3 linked regions of the Homo sapiens genome follow. The protein of the gene in region 1 interacts with the protein of each later gene in a biochemical or structural test. Each region holds a gene or a part of one and is shown in the gene's direction. Other genes may lie near its edges.

Region 1 (3,744 bases):
TCAGCCACCTAGGCTGGAGTGCAGTGGCGCGAGCTAGGCTCACCGCAACCACCATCTCCCAGGTTCAAGAGATTCTCCCGTCTCAGCCTCCTGAGTAGCTGGGATTACAGGCACCCGCCATCATGCCCACCTAGCTTTTGTATTTTAGTAGAGACAGGGTTTCACCATGTTGGCCAGGCTGGTCTTGAACTCCTGACCTCAGGTGATCCGCCCATCTTGGCCTCCCAAAGTGCTAGGATTACAGGCGTGAGCCACCATGCCGGGCCAGGAGCGAAAAATTAAAACAATTGAACTCATGGAGATAGAGAATAGAAGGAGGGTTACCAGAGGCTGGTAAGATTAATGGGGAGGTAGGTGGGAAGTGGGAATGATTAACGGGTACAAAAGAATAGTTAGAAAGAATAAGACCTAGTATTTGCTAGCACAAGAAGGTGACTACAGTAAAAAACAATTGGCCGGGCGCGGTGGCTCACGCCTATAATCCCAGCACTTTGAGGGGCAGAGGCGGGCGGATCATGAGGTCAGGAGTTCCTGACCAGCCCGGCCAATATGGTGAAACCCCATCTCTACTTAAAAAATATACAAAAATTAGCTGGGCGTGGTGGCATGCGCCTGTAGTACCAGCTACTCAGGAGGCTGAGGCAGGCGAATCCCTTGAACCAGGGAGGCGGAAGTTGCAGTGAGCTGAGATCGCGCCACTGCACTCCAGCCTGGGCGACGGAGTGAGACTCCGTCTCAAAAAAACAAAAATAAAACAAAAAACAAAAAAAAAACCACACACACACAAAATTTACTTGTACATTTTAAAATAACTAGAGTATAATTGGGTTATTTGTAACACAAAGGATAAATGCTTGAGTTGCTAGATACCCCATTTACCATGATGTGATTACACATCGCATGCCTGTATCAAAATCTCATGTACCCCATAAATATATTCACCTACTACGTACTTACGAAAATTTAAAAAATACATCAGTGTAGTGTGGGAAAAAACAGAAAATTTTTAAAAAAGAGTGAAAGCCAGATATGAATCCAGGCCTGTATGACAGACATGAAGTCCAGTGCTGAGGAGGCCTTTCTACGTTTGGGAAGAGGGGAGGGGCCACACTCGTTCGATCAATAATTCTATTTACTGAGCATTTTAGCTTGCTAGGGAGGTAATGATGGGAAAAAGAAGAGAGGGATTTAGAGGCAAATAATAATGAAAGCTTTTATCTATATCCCATTAAGCTTATTATTAGACAGTATGTGTCAGGCACGGTGACAAGTGCTTTCCAAGCCCACCTCCATTTGCTCTTCACAAGCACTATGATTTTCCCCATATTTCAGATGGGTAAACTGAGGCTTGGAGTTGCCATGTCCAAGGATACTCAGAGCGCTCGCAAAAGACTGTGCAATGTGTGCTTCCGAAGTGGGACTCACTGGCGAGAGAATAGCCCTGGAAAGCCGACAGAGACCCACGAGATCCCAGCACTAAGCACTCAGCACCGAAGGGAGCTGGCGCGCGCTCCACCTCGCGCTCCCGGGGACGTCTGGTCACGTGGGCAATGCCCCGCCCCTCGAGTCCGCCCCGCCCCCTCTCGCGCTCCCTCCCTCTCTCCCTCCCTCCCCCTCCCTCCCCGGCCCGGTCCGGCCCATCCCCCTCCCCGCCGGCTCCGTGAGGCCCTGCCGGGTCGGGCTGCGGGCGGCCGGGCGCGGGCGGCGGGACAGACGGGCGCACGCGAGGACTGACGGACGGACGCACCGAGGGCGGCGGGCACGCACGGCCCGGGCCGGCGCTCCAAGGCCCGCCCGGGAGGGCCGGGGCCGCGCTCAGGTGAGGGGACGGCGGCGCGGGCCCGTAAGGGGTGGGCCCGCCGGGCGTCCGCGGTCCTTGTCGGGCTGGCTTCGCGGGGAGGAGGCGCCGCCCGGGCCCGCGCGGAAAAATGGCGCCGGGCGACCGAGTGGCACGGTCTGAGAGCGGGCCCGGCCCGGAGCCGCCCCGCCCGCCGCGCTTGTGTCCCCGTCGCCATGTTGGGGAGCGGGCCCCAGGCCTGCGGGCGGGGGCGCTGGAGGGAGCGGCGGCCGGGCTGGGTGGGGAGGGTGCTGGGCGCGGGGGCCGGTGCACTGAGGGAGTGCAGGGCTGGCCGGGGTCTGCACGGGGTGGCGCTCCAGGCCTGGGGAACAGGCGGGAGCCGGTCGTGGGGTCGTGGTCAGGGTCGCGGAGAAGGAACACTGGGTCCGAAGGGAACCGGGATTGGGGTCTATGGGCTGAGAGGATGGCAGGACGTGGAACTGGGTTAGGCCTTAGGCGGTGTTAGAGCCCTAATGCAGGTAGGACCTGGGGATTGGGGTGGAGGCATGGGGGCCAAGCTCAGGCTGTCAGGGCTGGAGCAGTTCTTTGCTGGGAGGGAAGGAGGTGATTGATGAGGAATGAGGGCCCTTTGGGTACAGACGCTGGTTCAGATTGGGGCAGTCCTTGGGGTACTGGGGCTGAATTGCAAAGCTGTATAACTCCCAAGGCTCTGAAGACTTATGTCCCAAGCATCCTCCACCCCCTCTTGGGGGAAGCAACAGGAAAAAGGAGGTGTTTGATGAGAGAAAAGGGGGACAAAGGGAGACTGAGGTTTGGGTGCAGGAGCTGGCCAGCAAAAGAGGCACAGAGAGTGGAACTGGTTGGCAAGGAAGGAGAGAACCTTTATCAACTTAGGGAGTTGTGTGTGTCTTTAAAAGGAGGGACCTGGCTGTTTGGGGGCGGTGACCCAAGGTGTCTTCCCTGGAAGGGGACAGCCCACAGCTTAAGAGCAGAGTCACCTGGAGAGGTCATCAGAAAGGCGTTATTGAAGCCAGTAAAATGGTGAAGAAGAGTGAATGTATAAAAACTACAAAGGCCTGAGAGATCAAGTAAAGATTTCAAATCAGGTAGTGATTTTAGCTGAAACATAGAAAGGTAAAGTTGACTTTTCAAGATCTTACAAGTTAGTGGCAGAGGGGTACTAGAAATTGTCGGCTGCTTCCTCACTAAACACATTGCCTTAAAGGAATTTGCTAGCTGGGAGAAAGGTGTTAAGAAATGAAGCATAACATTCTTGTGATGAAACTAAAAGCAAACAAACAAAAACAACAAGAAATGAAGCATAACAGTATATACCAGATAACTATTAAATTTGTTTTCTTCCTGTAATGAGTGTGGCAATACAAAGGCTGAAGGGAATACAAAAAAGTATAGGCAGCCAGTTATTTGGTATTTCCTGGTTCATCTCTAATTGTGCAAAGAAGTTATCTTTGAGACCTTCTAACTTTCTAGAGTTTTAAGAGGTGCTCCGGCCAGCCACAGTGGCTCACGCCTGTAATCCCAACACTTTGGGAGGCCAAGGTGGGAGGATTTCTTGAGCCCAGGAGCTGGCAGACCCCATCTCTACAAAAGAAATAAAAAAAATTAGCCACCTGATGTGGCTTGTACTTGTAGTCCCAGCTACTCAGGAGGCTGAGGTGGGAGGATCGCTTGAGCCTGGGAGGTCAAGGCTGCAATGAGCCATGCTATGGTCATTCCATGACATTCCTGCCTGGGCGACAGAGCAAGACACTGTCTAAAGAAAAAAAAAAAAGAGAGATGCTCCTTCTCTTCTAGGTGTTTACCACAAAGGAACACAAAATCCTAAAAAAGAAAAGTGAAAAATTGTAGACACCCAGAGTCTCTATTTTATTAATTGAAGTTGGATCATGTTAGAGAAGAATTCAAAGTTCGCATGGGCTATGGGA
Region 2 (3,744 bases), on another chromosome or scaffold:
CTCTCCATATTATCTCACTTAGTCATCTCAGTGACTCAGTGAGGAGGGAGTGGTTGTTCCCACTTTACAGATGAGAAAACTGAGATACAAGGAGGGAAGTGACCCAGCTAGGCCACACGGTTGGTAGGAGGTGGACCTGCAATCTGGCCCAGGCCTTGTCTATCTGGGACTCCCCCCCAACCCCCCAACCTGAGTACAGTCAGGAGGGGCCCAAGCAGTCACAGAGACAGGCCTGGAACGCGGCGGGCACATGGCACTTTTGCAGTGTATGTTGGTGCTTACGGGGGCTCTTTCTCAGTCCTATCCTTTGTTTGCCGCCCCCCTCCCTGGCAGGAGGAACTCAGTTTTAGAAGGGCAGTGGGTTGGGCCGGCATGCCATGTGCAGTGGGGAAGTGGGTCTGTTGTGGCTGTAACCACAGTGGGTGAGGACCAGGTGTCAACAGTGGCCCTCATCCCGGAGGGAGTGGGGCAGGCTGCCTGTTGGACAGGGTGTGTGAATAGGGGGACGGGGTGGCCTTTGGTAGGGGCCCAGGGGTCAGTGAAGAGGGGGAGGGGGAGAGGGCTGCCTTGGGCTCTGGCTGTGCTGGGGGTGGGCTGCCCAACCAGGGCACTTCTGTCCCAAGTGGAACCAAGACCTCCCACCGGAACAGGCCACCGGAGCCCTCGTGGAACCCAGCTCCGGGTGGCCCGACTTGAGGGGCACCCAGGCAGCAGGACACCTCTCTGGTCTCGGGCTGTTATCTTTGGGCCGTGTCATGGCTGTCCACACGCGGTCATCACCTCCTCACCTCCCTCCCCATTAGCGTCCCCTGACCCGGGCCACCACGCGCAGCCTGCGTGAATGGTCAGTCCCTGTGCCTCGCAGCCCGGGCCCTTAGGTCTAGGTGGTCAGCAAGCTCGCGGTGGGGGTGCGGAGGGAGGGCGCGGCGGGGCGCCTCGGCGCCTGCTCAGGAAGGCTGGGCTTGGCGGCGCGCAGGTAGCTCACACCCAAATCCGAATTCCAGCCGCCCGAGACGGCGGGCGGCGGGCGGCGCGCGGCGGAGGCGGCCCGAGCTGTCCCGGGGCAGGAGTGCTTCCTTTCGTTTTCAAACAAATCGTGAATTTAAAAGTCAGGCAGAGAACTACCCAGGGTATAAAAATAGCCACCGGCCACAAAGTCTGTGTCCAACTCCGGGCAGCGCCTGCCCAGCCTGGTGCCTTTGAAGAGGGGTCCCAGGAGTGCGGGTCGATGAGGAGGCGAAGCGCGCACCCCTCCTCGTTCCCGGTGGGCTCGTGGGTCTCTCCGTGGGGGTAGGGCGTGAAAGTGTGGGGTGGACCGGGGGTAGCGTCCGGAAGACGAAACCTTCCCCGGACGAGGAGCTTGTCCTCTGCCGTTGGGGCACATCGCCACTCCCGGGCCTCAGTTTCCCCACGTGTCCGCCGCGGCGGGGTGCGAGGTATGGGTGCCGCGGCCATCCCGCCCGGCTCTGCGCTTGCCTGGCCCGGGCCGGGGTCCCCTCGCGGCCACCGCCCGGCCGCTTTGTGTGGCCGCGCAGACAATGGCCCGGCCGCTGGGCTCCCGGCCCGGCTCTCCGCCTCCTCCGGGCCCTTGCGCGCAAGTGTGTGTGTGCGCGAGTGTGTGGCGGGCCCGGGGAGGGAGTTCTGCTCCCGCCCCCGCCCCCGCCCCGCTCCCTCTGCGCCCCGCCCCCTCCCACGCCGCCTCCTCGCGGCTCCCGGGAACCCCTGGCGGAGGCGAACTCGCAAGTTTGCACGGCGCTCTCAACTCGGCGGCCGGGCGGGCGGCGATCGCGGGGCGGCGGCGGCGGAGGGGGGCGCGCTCCGGGCGGGGCTGGGCGGGCGGGGCGCGGGCCGAGCGGTGGCGGCGGCGCTGCGCCGAGTCAGCGCCCGTCGCGGGCCCCCCGCCACCCCCCCGCCGGCGCCGCAGCGCCGCGGTCGGAGCGGGGCGCGGGCGCGCGGCGGCGGGGGCGCGGGCCGGGCGCGCGCGGCGGCGGCGCGCAGACACAAGTAGTTTACATTGTTGGGCGACTTTTGCAACAACTCGCCGCGCCGCGGCCTCCGCGCGCCGCCGCCGCCACCGCAGCCGCCGGCTCCCCGCCGCCCGGGCCCGGGCCGGCCGCGCCGGGGGCCGCCGCGCCCGCCGCCCGCTGCCTGCGCCGCCGGCCGGGCATGAGTTAGTCGCAGACATGGACACCAAACATTTCCTGCCGCTCGGTGAGTGCTCGCCGGGCCGGGCGGGGACGGGGCCGGGGGCCGGGGGCCGGCGGGCGGGAGGGGGCCGGGGGCGCGTTGGCGGCGCGCGCGGGGGGTCGCCGGCCCGGGCCCCGCTCGGACCCCTCGCCGACCTTCGCGTGAGTTCGGGCGCCGGGCCCGGGGAGGGTCGACCCGGGGCAACTTTTCGCGGGGCCGGGGCGGGGCTGGGCAGCGGGCGGGCGGCGGGGCCGGGGGGCGGGTGGCAGGTTCGCCCGGGACGAGGAGGGGTCTCCCGCTCACCGGCGGCCGCCTGCGCCCCGGCGCCCAGCTGCAGCCGCGCCGCACAGGAACCCGGCCGGAGCGGGAGGAGCAACTTCTGCGCTCCGCGGCTCCGGCCTCCCTGGCCTGGGGACCGGGACGGCGCGCTGGGCCCCGAGCGGCCTCTGCGCCGCCCGCCCGTCGGGCTGCGGCTTCTAGCAGGCCGCTGGCCCTTGGGTGTGTGTCCGCCCAGGAAACAGACTGGGACCCTGTTATCCCCAAAGCAGCCCACGCCCGGGTGGGCAGGGTCCCCCGGGGCTGTATGAACAGAACGTCAGACCTGGGAAGGCCCCATTCCAGAAATGGGGCCCCTCACTCTGGCACCCCCGGGTGTTCTCCCAGGCTGGCTCTCCATTTGTGAGCAGGACAGCGCAGAGGCGCGTAGGGTCAGTTTCCCTCCTCCTCCTGCCATCCCGCCCGGTAGCTTCCTATCCCAGACTGCCCGCCAACTCCAGGCCCAGACCTACCGAGAAGGGGGAGAGGGCATGGCTGGGGCCCCCACCCATTGCCCTCCCAAGGGTTTGGAAGCTAGTGAGAAGGGGGAGACTTTATAAATTAGCTCCGGGAAGGATATTAATTTGGTGGTGGGACGGCAGCCAGGCTGTCAGGCCGGGTGAAGGATTTGTGCTGAATGGAAATCGAAACAGCTGATTATGAATGAAGCCCCCGCCATCCGTAGCCCCTCCTGCCCACCCTCCCTGCAGCCTGGGGTGCAGCTTGGCCACCCCAGGAGGTGCTCAGAAGCCAATGTAGCTGCAGGGATGTTTAGTGAGATGGGGCATCAAGGGGAGCCAGCATGGACCTAGCCCCTCCTGGATGTGAGGGTGAGAGTCTGAGTACCTCTGCTACTCACAGGCAGGTGTGCTGCCCCGTGACCGGGGCAGGCGGTGGGTTCCAGGTTTGTCAGACCTAACGCTTACTCCCTGCCTCTGTCATGATGGAGTGGTGGGCTCGAGGCCTTGAATGAGCTCCAGGGCTCAGCCTCCAGGGGTGGGCGCTCATGCCCATTTTGCAGATGAGAAAACTGGCTGGGAGAGGCTGAGCCCCCAGGATACAAGGTGGTGGATTTGGGATTAGCACCCCCAGCTCGTGGTACTGCTGAGTGTGAGGCAGGAGGGAATGCTGCGCTGTCTGTGACCGAGTGCAGTGTGGAGTGGGCTGGGGCTGCCTTTCCCTGTTAAAGCTTTGCACTCACACATGTGCACACACACATCCACACACACAGAGCTAGGCTCT
Region 3 (3,744 bases), on another chromosome or scaffold:
TTGTGCCACTGCACTCCAGCCTGGGCGACAGAGCAAGACTCCATCTCAAAAAAAGAAAAAAGAAAGAAAAGAAAAAAAGAAAAATACAAAAAAAAATTGGCTCACCTAGTCTGTAATCCTAGTACTTTGGGAGGCCAAGGCAGGTGGATCACCTGAGATCAGGAGTTCAAGACCAGCCTGACCAACATGGTGAAACCCTGTCTGTACTAAAAATACAAAAAATGAGCCAGGCGTGGTGGCGGGTGCCTAGCGTAATCCCAGCTCCTCAGGAGGTGGGGGCAGGAGAGCCACTCGAACCAGGGAGACAGAGGATGCGCTGAGTCGAGATCATGCCATTGCACTCCACCCTGGGCAACAACAATGAAACTCTGCCCCCCGCCCGCAAAAAAAAAAAAAGAAAAAAGAAAAAAAATGTTCCTCCTGCCCCTTGCTGTTAAACCTTCCCTGCCCCAGGCGACCACTAATCTACTTTGTCTCTCTGAATTTGTCTTTTGTGAATCCTTTGTGTAAACGGAACCCTGCAGCGTATGCTGTCTTGGGTCTGGCTTCCTTCTCTAGCCCTTGGTTTCTGTACTCTAGACCTGCCCCATTCCCTTCTGAAACTTGAAAAGGATAGGGGCATTTGATCAAAGTGTCTTGAACAGAATGAATGAGGTTTATGTTGACATTGACCCTTGGAGAAAAATAGTCAACCGAACTGCCTTTACAGTGCACAGGAGGAAGGGGATGGCATTGCCTTGATGAGCCATCATATTCCCTGGTTCTTTAATGAGGCCTCAGGTTTCTTTTGCAGCCTCGGCCCTGCCCTGTGTGTGCACCCCAAGGGAGAAGTGTTGCAGGGCTAATTTGCAGGCTTGCATTTGCTCAGGATAAAGTTCGAGCCTTGCCCCCACCACACCCAGCTTTGTGGGCATTCATTCTCTCTCTCTGGTTACTTCTGTCCTGGCTTTAGTCCTTGCTCCTCTGCTATAACTCCTTAAAGGCAGGGCCGATTTCACTGGCACGTTCATCTGACGTGTGTGCGTGGGTCCTGCAGGTATGTGACAGGGCACATCTGGGCCTGTCCTCCAAGTGAAGGAGATGATTACATCTTCCATTGCCACCCACCTGATCAAAAAATACCCAAGCCAAAACGACTGCAGGAGTGGTACAAAAAGATGCTGGACAAGGCGTTTGCAGAGCGGATCATCCATGACTACAAGGTACCCGGCGCTGAAGGAAGGTGGTGGCTTTTGTCACAACTGAGGGGAGGATATTTGTGTGCCTTTTTCTTGCATTCGCATACTTGTTAATTACCTTCACTTATGAGGATTAGAAAGCAGAAAAATAAAAGCCTAAAGTGAGAACTTAGAAGCATTTTCTTCAGCTGATTGAGGCTTTCCCCTGGCCGTCTGAGAGCAGCACAGTTGGAGCTGTTTCCATCAGTGGGCATTGGGGCCTGTGCATCACTGTTGCACACATAGGGGCTCCAGCACTGTGGTGGGGGGTGCACATGTGTGGGGGTCTGCTGCACTGTGGTGGGGGGGCACACATGCATGGGACTCTGCCACACCATGGTGAGGGGCACGCTTGCGTGGGGGTCTGTCGCACCATGGTGGGGGGCACGCGTGCATGGCCCTCATCTCACTGTTGTGCTTTGCCCACTCAGGATATTTTCAAACAAGCAACTGAAGACAGGCTCACCAGTGCCAAGGAACTGCCCTATTTTGAAGGTGATTTCTGGCCCAATGTGTTAGAAGAGAGCATTAAGGAACTAGAACAAGAAGAAGAGGAGAGGAAAAAGGAAGAGAGCACTGCAGCCAGTGAAACCACTGAGGTACAGACCCTTCTCTGAGCTCCATTGCCCACGTGTCCCGCTGGAGCTGCAGGGTGGCAGGCTGGGAGGCGCGTGTCGACTGTTAGGTCCTTCCTGTGGTGGTGTCTCCGTTCACACATGCACGTCGACACCACCTGCAGCACAGGGCGTTGGTGGGCAGCAGTGTGGGCTCTGCACTCTCTGCACAGTGGATGCTCTGGGGAGCTGGGGGTCCACTTAGACTCGGAGAGGGAAGAGAGGAAGACAGAAAATGGGACATGGGGCAGTCAGGACACAACCCGCTGATGTAAAAAGTGAGTCGAGGAGGCACAGGGTTGCCAGGCCTTATTCCGTGTTTGGTGGCCACTCTGCACATGATGCTCATGCCCTGCTGCCCTCTCTCCTTGGCGCTGCCCCTGAGTGCCAGGCAGTGCAGACTGAGCCAAACAAAACCCCATCCCTGGCCAGGCGCGGTGGCTCACACCTGTAACCCCGCACTTTGGGAGGCCGAGGCAGGCGGATCACAAGGTCAGGAAAGGGAGACCAGCCTGGCTAACACAGTGAAACCCCATCTCTACTAAAAATACAAAAATTTAGCCGGTTGTGGGAGGGGGCACCTGTAATCCCAGCTACGAGGGAGGTTGAGGCAGGAGAATCGCTTGAACCCGGGAGGCGGAGGTTGCAGTGAGCCTAGATTGCGCCGTTGCACTCCAGCCCAGGAGACAGTGCGAGACTCCGTTTCAGAACAAACAAAACCCCATCTCCGCCCCCAAGGGAGTGGCTGTGTCCTGGTAGGATGTGAAACAAAAAGAACCCAGACCCAAGCATGGTGTGCTCTGAGCGTGGCAGAGCTCTGAAGGGGAAGGAGCCTTGGGGAGGTGGCGTGTGGGCCAGACCCGCCCACCACAGGAAGGTGCTGGAAGAGGACCCGCCAGGCGGTGGGAGGAGGCGCGCTGTGTGCGGGTTTGTGCGGCTGTCTGGGGAAGAGATGATGGTGGCGTGGGTGTGGGCTGTAGCTGTAGGTGCAGGGAGAGCGATGACGAACGTTGAAGGCTGCAGCCCCAGAACTTGGGACAGGCGATTGTGACCAGTGAGGAAAAGCGGTGAATGGAGGTGGCTCTTGCGTGGGCTGCTGCCATGGGTGAGGCAGCCGGGAGCCGGCTGGGGACATACTGCCACTCTGGTGCCTGTCCCATATGAGAGCACGTCTGTGAGGTGGGTGCCGGATGGGCTGTAGGCGGAGCGTGGGGCCTGGGCCGCTTCCGCCACACACACTCGTGCTCACTGCACAGGTGGTTGAGAGGCAGCCACCTGCTGGACGGCGCCCCAGAGTGTCATTCGCAGGACAGAGGAGGCGCGGGCAGGGGGTGGCGTGGGTTTACGCCCTAGGTGGCTCCTAAGCAGAGCTCCTGGCCTGTTGTCTTCGGACTTGCTCCCGCTGGAGTGTAGCTGGTCTCACTGGTGTCTGGTGAGTTAATGCTTGAGTTCCATCTCCTAAGGGTGACACGGGAGGTTACCGCGTCCGAGACAGGCTTTGCGCAGCTGAGTTCCACCCCAGGAGGGGGCACCTGCCTGTGGCATGGCAGCAGTGGGGTTGTCCAGAAGACAGGCCTGATAGGGGCTCCTGCTGGGGCAGCCTTCCCTGTGCACCGGGGACATGCATGTGTTAGGAGGCGGGATGCTGAGGTGTCGGCATGTAGACCTGCTGTCCCTTGTGTGTTTGGTTCATGGACAACAATGGGCAGGGACATGCCTTCGTCAGCAACACCCCAGGAGCTCGCTCTGGGGGTCAGCCTTAGTGAGGGCTGGTGCGTGGGGTGGAGCACTGCTTTGCTATTAGCTCTGCTCTGCATCATGCTGTCAATTCTGGGAAATGGGGAAAGGCTCGCGATAGTGTCAGGTGGGGCGAGAAACGGAACCAGCTCCCTGTGTGCAGTCCCAGCTTCGTG

Evidence for each region.
Region 2: the proteins of NCOA6 (region 1) and RXRA form a complex in vitro, tested with the Homo sapiens proteins (5 studies listed by BioGRID).
Region 3: the proteins of NCOA6 (region 1) and CREBBP form a complex in vitro, tested with the Homo sapiens proteins (2 studies listed by BioGRID).

What each region holds. Positions count from the first base shown.
Region 1 is NC_000020.11:34,823,547-34,827,290, reverse strand, and holds the start of NCOA6 (nuclear receptor coactivator 6), read left to right. Parts: upstream 1-1,639; 5' UTR 1,640-1,819; intron 1,820-3,744. UniProt on the Homo sapiens protein: Nuclear receptor coactivator that directly binds nuclear receptors and stimulates the transcriptional activities in a hormone-dependent fashion. Coactivates expression in an agonist- and AF2-dependent manner.
Region 2 is NC_000009.12:134,324,449-134,328,192, forward strand, and holds the start of RXRA (retinoic acid receptor RXR-alpha), read left to right. Parts: upstream 1-2,006; 5' UTR 2,007-2,183; coding exon 2,184-2,211; intron 2,212-3,744. UniProt on the Homo sapiens protein: Receptor for retinoic acid that acts as a transcription factor.
Region 3 is NC_000016.10:3,734,108-3,737,851, reverse strand, and holds part of CREBBP (CREB-binding protein), read left to right. Parts: intron 1-1,036; coding exon 1,037-1,202; intron 1,203-1,648; coding exon 1,649-1,816; intron 1,817-3,744. UniProt on the Homo sapiens protein: Acetylates histones, giving a specific tag for transcriptional activation. Mediates acetylation of histone H3 at 'Lys-18' and 'Lys-27' (H3K18ac and H3K27ac, respectively).